3 linked regions of the Homo sapiens genome follow. The protein of the gene in region 1 purifies or fractionates together with the protein of each later gene. This does not show direct contact. Each region holds a gene or a part of one and is shown in the gene's direction. Other genes may lie near its edges.

What was found.
Region 2: the proteins of CTNNBIP1 (region 1) and TLE2 purify together in Homo sapiens (co-immunoprecipitation; one large-scale study listed by IntAct). This does not show direct contact.
Region 3: the proteins of CTNNBIP1 (region 1) and GOT2 purify together in Homo sapiens (affinity purification with mass spectrometry; one large-scale study listed by BioGRID and IntAct). This does not show direct contact.

What each region holds. Positions count from the first base shown.
Region 1 is NC_000001.11:9,865,225-9,868,874, reverse strand, and holds part of CTNNBIP1 (beta-catenin-interacting protein 1), read left to right. Parts: intron 1-3,650. UniProt on the Homo sapiens protein: Prevents the interaction between CTNNB1 and TCF family members, and acts as a negative regulator of the Wnt signaling pathway.
Region 2 is NC_000019.10:3,012,134-3,015,783, reverse strand, and holds part of TLE2 (transducin-like enhancer protein 2), read left to right. Parts: intron 1-23; coding exon 24-131; intron 132-1,169; coding exon 1,170-1,214; intron 1,215-1,965; coding exon 1,966-2,115; intron 2,116-3,650.
Region 3 is NC_000016.10:58,713,806-58,717,455, reverse strand, and holds part of GOT2 (aspartate aminotransferase, mitochondrial isoform 1 precursor), read left to right. Parts: intron 1-642; coding exon 643-793; intron 794-1,276; coding exon 1,277-1,442; intron 1,443-3,650. UniProt on the Homo sapiens protein: Catalyzes the irreversible transamination of the L-tryptophan metabolite L-kynurenine to form kynurenic acid (KA). As a member of the malate-aspartate shuttle, it has a key role in the intracellular NAD(H) redox balance.

The sequences.
Region 1 (3,650 bases):
CACCTGAGGCCAGGAGTTCAAGACCAGCCTGGCCAACATGGCAACATCCTGTCTCTATTAAAAATACAAAAATTAGCTGAGCATGGTGGCAGGTGCCAGTAGTCCCAGCTACCCAGCTACTTGGGAGATTAAGGCAGGAGAACCGCTTGAATCTGGGAGGCGGAGCTTGCGATGAGCCAAGATCACACCACTTTACTCCAGCCTGGGCAACAGAGCTAGACTCTGTCTCAAAAAATAATAATAATAATAATTGTTAGGGGATAGGACTATATAAGAAACTTTAACTTTCCAAGTCACACATTTTTGTAAAACTAATATTTTAACATTGTACATTTGTTTCTTTGTCATAAGGGAAAGTTAAAAAAAATATTTTTAGGAGAACTCTTGCCTAGCCGAACCCACAGTTAAGAATAAAAATGAGCTCTGCCAAGTTGTTGAGGAAGGTCAGTGACCCCACTTAGCTGTTGACCTTGCCCTGAAACTGCTGAGCAGTAGGAGCAAGCTGGCAGCTGTGACCAACTGTGTGGGCCGTGGAGTCCAGGCCCTTCTGGGTGGGTGGTGTCTGTCCACAGCTACTTCTTTCTCCGGGGAGGGGTCTTCTGGAGCTGAAGCTGGAGCCAGGGAAGACCCCAGGGAATCGTTGCGGAATAGGTGGTGGGAGTCACTCCCTGCTGCTGGGGCGCCCTGTGGACTGCCCCTACCTCCATAAAGATACCTCTAACCTGGCTGCCGGGGCCTGAGCCACACAGACCTGAGCTGCAGGAGGTTCTGAGAATTCTGTGGACTGGGAGTGGAGAGGGGAGGGGTCAGCCATGTCTGGAAGAGTTTCATAAGCATATTTATTTTCTTTGCGAGCCTAACGACACCACAAACAAACACAACAACAATAACAGCAGAACTGCAATCAGCCCAGTCCCATACTGGGCTTACCCATGTGAGGGCAGGACCCTGCATCTGCCTGTGCCATGTGGGCAAATGGATCTCTGTTAAAATCTCACCTGCCCACCTTCTCCATCGCAGAGCCAATCTCAGCTGATGCTGCAGGATCCTGCTGTCAGAGGCTCAGACACTGCTTAGGTGGAAGAAGCCCTGGATTGTTGTCTCCAGGGACTGGGGCAGGATGCGGGGGCCAGAGCAGGGTGCAGAGACTGCCATAATGAACCCCAAAGGCCTGGAGCCTGTGGGTAATGGCCTGGCGTGCACCTCCTGCCCACTAGGTGGCGCTGTCTCTCAGCAAATGCTCCAGGCTGCTTTAGGTGTTCCCTGAGCCAGAGGAGGCTCCATCTACCCCGGGACTCCTCTAGCAGGGGGTCTGAGGCAGACCCTCCAACGGACAGCACCCGACCTTGGTCCTGAGGGTCTGGCCGCCACCTTTAGCCCTGCACATGCTTCCCCTCCAGGGCTGGATGGGTCTGGTACCTGGGGCACTGCTCCCTTACTTGAGGCCCAGGGAGGGGGCCGTGGGCACCCCTTTACCCCCTACCCTTCGATTCCTTCCTCGGTCACATTTGTTGAGTATCTATGGGGAGCCAGGCAGGTGCTGGAGACCCTGGGGTGGGGGCCTCCCCTTACGGGCTCACCAGGTGGTTCCAGCAGAGGCCCCAGTGGCCCCCCAGTTCCCAGCCTGCCTGGCCTCTGCTGGGCTGAGACCACCAATGACAGCCTCCTTTCCCTCCCTTGTCCTTCACGTCACCCCTCACTGGCTGTTTCCCACTCCCTTCCCTCAATCAGGGCTGTCATCCTCCAGGGTTGCCCCCTCTCTTCTCCCTGTTCCACACGCAGTGCTGTGATCTCAACAGAGAACATAGCCAGCTGACTGTTGGCCAGCATCACCACAGCCACCCATGCCCAGCTGACATGGATTTTCCACCTGTGCTCTGCCCTGACCAATGCCCAGCAAGTACACGGCGCCCGAGGACTCAGCCTCGACTCCTCTCTTCCTCAGGAACCTAATGGGTTACTGAGTCCATCCTAAGGCTCCCCAGACCTGCTTCATTCTCTCCCTCTCATTTCCAGCCCCCTCTTGGACTGAGCCCATATTCACTCTTGTCTCACAGCTTCAGATCACTCCTATCTGGCATCTCGACTTCCCATCTTGCCCCCTCAGGTCTGCTCTCTACCCCCACAGCTGGAGAGACTTTTGGAGGCTTAGAGTGACATTAGTGGGTCTCTACTCGACTTTTTTTTTTTTTTTTGAGAAGGAGTTTTGTTCTGTCACCCAGGCTGGAGTGCAGTGGCGTGATCTCGGCTCACTGCAGCCCCCACCTTCCCAGTTCAAGCAATTCTCCTGCCTCAGCCTCCCGAGTAGCTGGGGTTACAGGCTCCCGCCACCACACCCAGCTGATTAGAGACGGGGTTTCACCATGTTGCCCGGGCTGGTCTCAAACTCCTGACTTCAGGTGATCCATACACCTTGGCCTCCCAAAGTGCTGGGATTACAGGCGGGAGCCACCATGCCCAGCCTCCACCCAACTTAAAATCATTCAGTGGCTCCCCACTGCCTTGAGGATAAAATCCAGCCCCTTTAGCTTGGTGAGCAAGACCTGACCTCACACTGTAAAGGGCCATAGTGAATGGCCATGTTCATGCCTTTCTGCCACTGCATTTGCCTCTTGGCCGCCAGGAACCAGCCTTCACCCCCACCTTACTCCCCTGCCCCCTGCAACCTGGGCCAGGCCCTCCTGTCACATGTGCATGTACCTCAGCTGTGCTACACCCACACTGTCTCCTAATCCATCTATTGACCGGGCTCTGAGCTCCTTGAGCTTGGAACTGTGGCTTCCATCTTATTGTTTGTCATGTTTGGACAAATAAATGAACTGGGTTCTAGTCCCCAAGGGTGTCTAAGCAGACCTGGAAACCAGAGAGACTTGGCTTTGAACCAGAGGAAGTCAGTACTTCTCAGGAAGGTCGCCCTGCTGGGAAGGGGCAGCTGCAGGAATGGGGAGGTCCAGAGCTTCCTGAAGCAGGCCTGTGGAGTGCTGAGTCCAGGCTTCTCTCATGGTCAGTGTGGCTCCCTCTAATGCGTAGTGATTTTTTTCCCAGTTATAGAATTGTGCATAGTCATTTTAAAAAACTGGGGAAAGGGAGAAAGAGCAGAAAAGTTTGAAATATTGAATCCTACTGCATAGCTGTAATCACTCTTACCCTTTGTTAAGTTCCCTGTCATCCTTTCACAAACATGCATACATCTGTAGCACAAGGCTGGGACCATAAACATTTTAATACCTGTTTTTTTTTCTTGTTGTTTTTTTGTTTTGTTTTGTTTTTTGAGACAGAGTCTCGCTCTGTCACCCAGGCTGGAGTGCAATGGTGCGGTCTCGGCTCACTGCAAACTCCACCTCCCGGGTTCATGCCATTCTCCTGCCTCAGCTTCCTGAGTAGCTGGGACTACAGGCGCCCGCCACCACGCCTGGCTAATTTTTTATATATTTTTTTAGTAGAGACGGGGTTTCACCGTGTTAGCCAGGATGGTCTCAATCTCCTGACCTCGTGATCCACCTGCTTCGGCCCCCCAAAGTGCTGGGATTACAGGCGTGAGCCACCGCGCCCGGCCTTAATACCCATTTTTAACATCCATTTTTTACGCATGATAATTTCACTGTGTTCTTAAATAATTTCCAATAAAACTTTTTTTTTTTTTTTTGAGA
Region 2 (3,650 bases), on another chromosome or scaffold:
CCCCGGCCTTTGTCTCTCCGCAGAGTGCATCTCCCTCGCCCCCTGAGAGTCTCGTGGAGGAGGAGCGACCGAGTGGCCCTGGTGGTGGCGGGAAGCAGAGAGCAGATGAGAAGGAGCCATCAGGACCTTATGTGAGTGGGGGCAGGTGCAGGACTGGGATGGGCGTGCATGGCCCAGACCAGCCTGGCCCCTCAGAGCCTTCCAGAGCCCAGCTCTGGCCATAATTCTCTCACTCCGGAGCCTCCCATAGCTCCCTACTACTCAGAGTACTGACCAATCAGAGGAGATCCTGTAATGCAAGGCTTAACTCCAGTTGCTTGAAGTCTCTGCGGCCTCTTGGCCGTACAGCCATTTTCCCACCCTCTAGCTTTTGCTCCAGCTGTTTTCTTTCCCTAGAACACACATGTTTTAGAAACCCATTTTTCTATCAAGAAACAAAGTGCCACCTCCTACAAGAAGCCTTCCCTGACCACCTCCTAGAGGCTGGGACCTCCTCTCATTGCCAGACGGCTGCACACTTGTAGTTTCCAACTCTAGCATCCCAGGGGCCAGGCCGAATGTGGGGAATGGGGCTGTGGCCAGCTGGGGAGCCCCTTCTCCCACCTACAGGGGCAGCTGCAACTTGATCCCCGGAGACTGGCAGGCTCAGGGTGGGCCAATATTGCTGTTTCTCAGAGAAGCCTTAAATCTTCCTTTTTACCTAATAGCTTTTTTTTTTTTTTTTTGGCAATGAATTTTATTTATTTATTTATTTATTTATTAAGGTGGAGTCTTATTTTCTTTGGCAATGAATTTTATTTATTTATTTATTAAGGCGGAGTCTTTATGAAGGCGGTAAGGATGATTGCTGGTCTCTGGCTCTCCCCTCACCATGCAGAGGGGTAAACTGAGGCCTGAGAGGGCCGGGAGTCACACAGGGCACTCATGTAGTCCACATCCTTCAAAGTCCTCTCCACAAGGTGCCCACCTGCCCTGCCTCCCCACATCCTTCCCGGATGCGGGCACGTGCAGCCTTCCCTTCTGCTATGAGCAAACGGGTGCAGTGGTCTGAGAATCCCAGTCATGCCCCAGGGCTGGCTGGGCTCATGCCTCCAACTCCTGAGGAGCGGATAGGGGGTGTGGAGGCAGGGGCATGACCACAATGAGCTCTCTCCCCCATCTTCCCCCAGGAAAGCGACGAAGACAAGAGTGATTACAATCTGGTGGTGGACGAGGTGAGTCCAGGGGTCCAGCCTCTTCCCCGACTCTGGGCACAGAGCAAGGGGTGGGTTTTCTGGACTGGGAGGACCCAGAGGTAGTGGGGATCCTGGTTCCCCGCTCTGTGGGACAGCTGGGATGGGGTCAGGAAGCGTCAGGGACTCCGGGACACCTCTGGCCGACCTCCTCTCCACTGCACAGGGAGTGACTTCAAGCCCAGGTTCACTGAGTGATTTGTGGGCAGTGACACCCCCTTCCCTGGCCTCACTTTTCCCCATCTGTTCAATGGGAAAATAAAACCAAGCCTTTATATAGTCCTCGCTATGGGTGCTTATGGAGTAGAGCCTATCATTAAACCCATTTTACAGGCCGGGCGTGGTGGCTCACACCTGTGATCCCAGCACTTTGGGAGGCTGAGGCGAATGGATCACTTGAGGTCAGGAGTTTGAGACCAGCCTGACCAACATGGTGAAACCTTGTCTCTACTAAAAATACAAAAAAATTAGCTGGATGTGCTCGCTTGAACCCAGGAGGCGGAGGTTGCAGTGGGCCATTACTCCAGCCTGGGTAACGGAGCGAGACTCAAAAAAAAAAAAAATACATTTTACAGATGAGTAAACTGAGGCAGCAGAAGATTTCATAATCTTCCCATGGTGGGTCATGGGTACCCATTCTAGAGATTGGGGTGGGAGTCGGGAGGAGGATAGAGAAGGGACTCTTCTTTCCCTCTCATTTCAACTCTGCTCAACGTCACCTCCTCAAACCCAGGACCAACCCTCAGAGCCCCCCAGCCCGGCTACCACCCCCTGCGGAAAGGTACCCATCTGCATTCCTGCCCGTCGGGACCTGGTGGACAGTCCAGCCTCCTTGGCCTCTAGCCTTGGCTCACCGCTGCCTAGAGCCAAGGAGCTCATCCTGGTAAGGAGGAGGGGAGGGCCTTGAAACTCACTTTATTCATCCCGGGGGCCCCGAAGCAGACGCTACCCCATGATGCAGAGGGCAGTGATGAGAAATCAGCCAGCCGGGCTGGCATTGTCCACCCTTTCCCTGTGCTTTTTTTTTTAAACCTCCTGCTTGGACTGACTTTGTTGAACCTCAGTAAATATTAAAAGGCAACTTTGTAAAGAAGCTTTGTAGATAAATTTTAAAAGGCAATTCACTACCTTACATGGAAAGCAGGTCTCTCTCTTGCAATCAATAGGAAATCCCATGGAAATAAACATAGTGAAAGCCCAGCCAGCTAGGCTGGACTCAGGCCTGCATGTGTTGAGCCCTTCCAGAGGCGCTTAGAGACACACCGGCCCCAAGCTGAGATGTTGTCCCCGGAAGGAAAGATAATTAATATAGGAACAAGTTTTCAGTTGGACCTCCTGGAGTTTAATGCCAGGCATGTGAGCCATCTAAAAGCACCCCCAGGGCATTAGAAATTCAGCTCCTTTTGCAGCTCCCCTCACCCCAAATCTTCTCCAGACCCCTCCCCTACACTTACCAGGGAAGAGTATGTCGGTTTCTAGGCCTCCCCTCCCGGTTTCAAGGCCTCCCTTCCTGGCAGGTTACCATGGCAACCGCCAGAGGTTGGGGCTCCCATTCCATCTTAAGTGCCCACCTCCCACTGCGGGAAAAACCTTACAAGGGGATGGGTCAGCTCCGTTGTATTGGAGAAGCCCTCAGGGGTCCTCCCTGACCCCACAGTCGTCCCATCCACTCTCTCGCGGGTGCCGGTGTTGCGTGGCTGTCACTGTTTGTGCGATGGTGTCATGGGAAGCCGAGACAGACGCAAGACAAGGATGCGAAGTTTCTTGGGAGGCAGGGGAGGCAGGGGAGGCGATGACATGAAGCCGAGATAACAGAGCCTGCCCCTAGATGGAGGTCCAGCTGCTGCTTTCCTCAGAGCTCTCCTTGGGGAGGGACAGCTCTGGGTGACACCTCCCTCTCTGTGGGGGCTCAAGGAGGATTGCAGTGTGTGCTAGGCACTCTTCCTTCACCTGGGAATATGCCGCTGTGGGGTCTGCCTCTCCACGAGCCCATCCCGGAGTTTCTAATTCCTTGTTGTTCAAGAATCTCAACAGTGGCTGGGTGCTGTGGCTCATCCCTGTCATCCCAGGGCTTTGGGAGGCCAAGGCAGGACGATCACTCGAGAACAGGAGTTGGAGACCAGCCTGGGCAACATAGTGAGACCTTGTCTCTATGAAAAATTTAAAAAGTTAGCCGGGCATGGAGTCGTGTGCCTGTAGTGCCAGCTACTTGGGAGGCTCAGTCGGGAGGATCACTCGAGCATGGGAGGTTGAGGCTGCAGTGAGCTATGATCGTGCCTTTTGTTTGTTTTTCGTTTTGGAGATGGAGTCTCGCTCTGTCACCCAGGGAGGAGTGTGGTGGCGCAATCTTGGCTCACTGCAACCACTGCCTCCCAGGTTCAAGAGATTCTCCTGCCTCAGCCTCCCGGGTAGTGGGTA
Region 3 (3,650 bases), on another chromosome or scaffold:
TTGTCTCATGTCCCTGTTTTCCCTTTTCACTCCTTTTCATTTCCCTTTCTTTTCTCTCTCTCTCTTTTTTTTTCTTTTGAGACAGAGTCTCACTCTGTCGCCTTAAGCCAGAACGCAGTGGCACAGTCACAGCTCACAGCAGCCTCTACCTCCAGGGCTCAAACAATCCTCCTACCTCAGCCCCTGAGTAGCTGGGACTACAGACATGTGTGCCACACCTGCCTGGCTAATTCTTCCTATTTTTCACAGAGACAGCATCTCACTTTGTTGCCCAGGCTGATCTCAAACTCCTGGGCTCAAGTGATCCTCCCACCTTGGCCTCCCAAAGTGCTGGGATTATAGACATGGGCCACCATGCCTGGCCAGTTTCCCTTTCTTTAACTTCTGTCAAATCTAAGCTGCAAACAGAATGAGACAGAAACAGCATTTGGAGAGCACTTTCAAGATAAAATGGTTCTAATGATGTTGTCTCGTGAGTCCTGGGTATAAGTTGAGTCTTCCAGGATTACGTTAGCCCCAGAAAAGGCTTATTGTGCTTATTGGGACCATGCCCACCTCACATAAACATCTTTCAGACTTTTATAAACATCTGGGGCCTCTTCAGAAAGACTGCTAAAGCTTCGATCTTTCGTTCCTTCTCAGAAAAGGAATCTCTTTGCGTTCTTTGACATGGCCTACCAAGGCTTTGCCAGTGGTGATGGTGATAAGGATGCCTGGGCTGTGCGCCACTTCATCGAACAGGGCATTAATGTTTGCCTCTGCCAATCATATGCCAAGAACATGGGCTTATATGGTAAGCTACAGCATCCAGCATGACACATGCTCTCATGCTGGGAGAGAATGCCACGAGGGCATAGAGCTTGTGGGTGTGTGTGTGTGTGTGTGTGTGTGTGTGTCCATCCATGTCCATGTCCCTCCCTACCCTAAGATGAAAGACCAGTATCGTAGATTTTACTGATTTTCTTAGCCATATATTCTTCGGTGTCCTTAAGTTTTTCCAGCAAAGGAAACTGATTACTGCTTCTCTAAACAAAAAGTAACAAATCCGTGAGCCAAGAAGATAGATACAATAAAAAATACCTTTGAATACTCTGAGTACTCAAAACTTCCTTGTGCCTCAGTTCACCACTCTGGTTGTTGAAAGCTTTTTATTTATAATAAAGTTATTTTGGGGTCCTTTGGATGGAAACAGATAATACGTAGCAAATACACTCATGATTTGCTTTAGCACATTAGATAGTAGAAGTAGAAGACGAGATCCATTTTTGTCTTTCAGGTGAGCGTGTAGGAGCCTTCACTATGGTCTGCAAAGATGCGGATGAAGCCAAAAGGGTAGAGTCACAGTTGAAGATCTTGATCCGTCCCATGTATTCCAACCCTCCCCTCAATGGGGCCCGGATTGCTGCTGCCATTCTGAACACCCCAGATTTGCGAAAACAATGGTAAAGGTTTATGCCACTCCCCAGCCACCTACCTGTTCCCACCACTGCTCCTTCAAAGTTAGTTTTTAATTGACCTCTAGTGATATACAGTACCCCATAGATTCCATATGTGGAAGGCAGGGAAGGAAGCAAAAAATGTGCATTCCTTTTTTAAAAAATTAAGGCCGGGCACAGTGGCTCACGCCTGTAATCGCAGCACTTTGGGAGGCCGAGGCAGGTGGATCACCTGAGGTCGGGAGTTCGAGACCAGCCTGACCAACATGGAGAAACCCCGTCTCTACTGAAAATACAAAATTAGCCGGATGTGGTGGTGCATGCCTGTAATCCCAGCTACTCGGGAGGATGAGGCAGGAGAATTACTTGAACCTGGGAGGCGAAGGCTGCAGTGAGCCGAGATTGCGCCATTGCACTCCAGCCTGGGCAACAAGAGCAAAACTCCGTCTCAATCTATATATATAGATAGATAGATAGATTGGTTGAGACAGGGTCTTGCTCTGTCACCCAGTCTGGAGTGCAGTGTTGCAATCCTAACTCACTGTAACTTTGTACTCCTGGCCTCAAGCAGTCCTCCAGCCTCAGCCTCCCGAGTATTTGTTAGCACTTTGAACCAAGTTAATTGATATTTCTCTGTAAGAGGCAGTCATAATTTTTAAATGGTAGTTCCTTTTATTCCGTCATCTCCGTGTTAAGTAGAACCTGCTTTCCCCTAAAATCAGTTTCAAATTAAGTACCTTACATAGGAAAACTTCCTTAAAAACATCATATTTTTGTTTGTGTCCTAATAATTGCTAGCATTGAATCCGTATTTTTGCATATGTTTGTATTTTATTGTAGAGACAGGGTCTTGCTGTCTTGCCCAGGCTGGTCTCCTCAAACTCCTGGGCTCAAATGATCCTCCCACCACAGACTCCCTAAGTGCTGGGATTGCAGGTGTGAGCCACTGCACTCAGCTTGTTTTTTATTATCTGTACTATCTGACTCTCAACATCTGTTCTCTGAATTAGTGTTACTAAATTTTTTTGACCACAATCCACATAAGAAATATATTTAAGTCTGGGCACAGTGGCTCACACCTGTAATCCCAACACTTTGGGAGGCTGAGGTGGAAAGATCGTTTGAGACAAGCCTGGGCAACATACTGAAACCCCATCTATAAAATTTTAAAAATATATATTTTACATCATGACCTTGAACATATTATATACTTATATGTGTATATAACTGAAACTGTCTTCCAGACTCAATACTAAAGGCTTCATGTGCTTTACTCGAGTTTTTTGTTTTGTTTTGTTTTTTGTTTTTTTTTAAACAGTCTTGCTGTGTCACCCAGGCTAGAGTGCAGTGGCACAATCACTGCAACCTCCACCTCCTAGGCTCTAGCAATTCTCGTGCCTCAGCCTCCCGAGTAGCTGGGATCACAGGTGTGCACAACGAGACCCAGCTAATTTTTTTTTTTTTTTTTGAGACGGAGTCTCGCTCTGTCGCCCAGGCTGGAGTGCAGTGGCGGGATCTCGGCTCACTGCAAGCTCCGCCTCCCGGGTTCACGCCATTCTCCTGCCTCAGCCTCCCAAGTACCTGGGACTACAGGCGCCCGCCACTACGCCCGGCTAATTTTTTGTATTTTTAGTAGAGACGGGGTTTCGCCATGTTGGCCAGGCTGTTCTCAAACTCCTGGCATCAAGTGAACCACCTGCCTCGGCCTCCCAAAGTGCTAGGATTACAGGCGTGAGCCACCAAGCCCAGCCTCCACTCCAATATTTTCTAAATGCCAACTGCATCTTACTAAGTTGAATTTAACATACTAAGCCAGGTAAGGTGGCTCACACCTATAATCCCAGCATGCATTTTGGGAGGCCAAGGCAGGTGGATCCCTTGAACCCAGGAGTTGGAGACCAGCCTGGGCAACATAGCAAGACTGTGTCTCTATTAAAATAAAAGAAAATAAAAAAATAAAAAATAAAAAAATTAACCTACCAATGGGTCATGACACATAATTTAGAAAACACTGCTGTAGAAAGGGGTTGGCAAACTGTTCTGAGAGTCAATCCAGTTTGCCCCCTATTCTTGTAAATAAAGTTTTATTGGAACACAGCTGTACCCATTTGTTTATGAATTTTGTATAGCTACTTCTTTGCTGCCATGGCCGAGTGAGCAGTTGTAGAAGGCAGAGACCATATGGCCTATAAAGCCTAAAATAATTACTGTTTG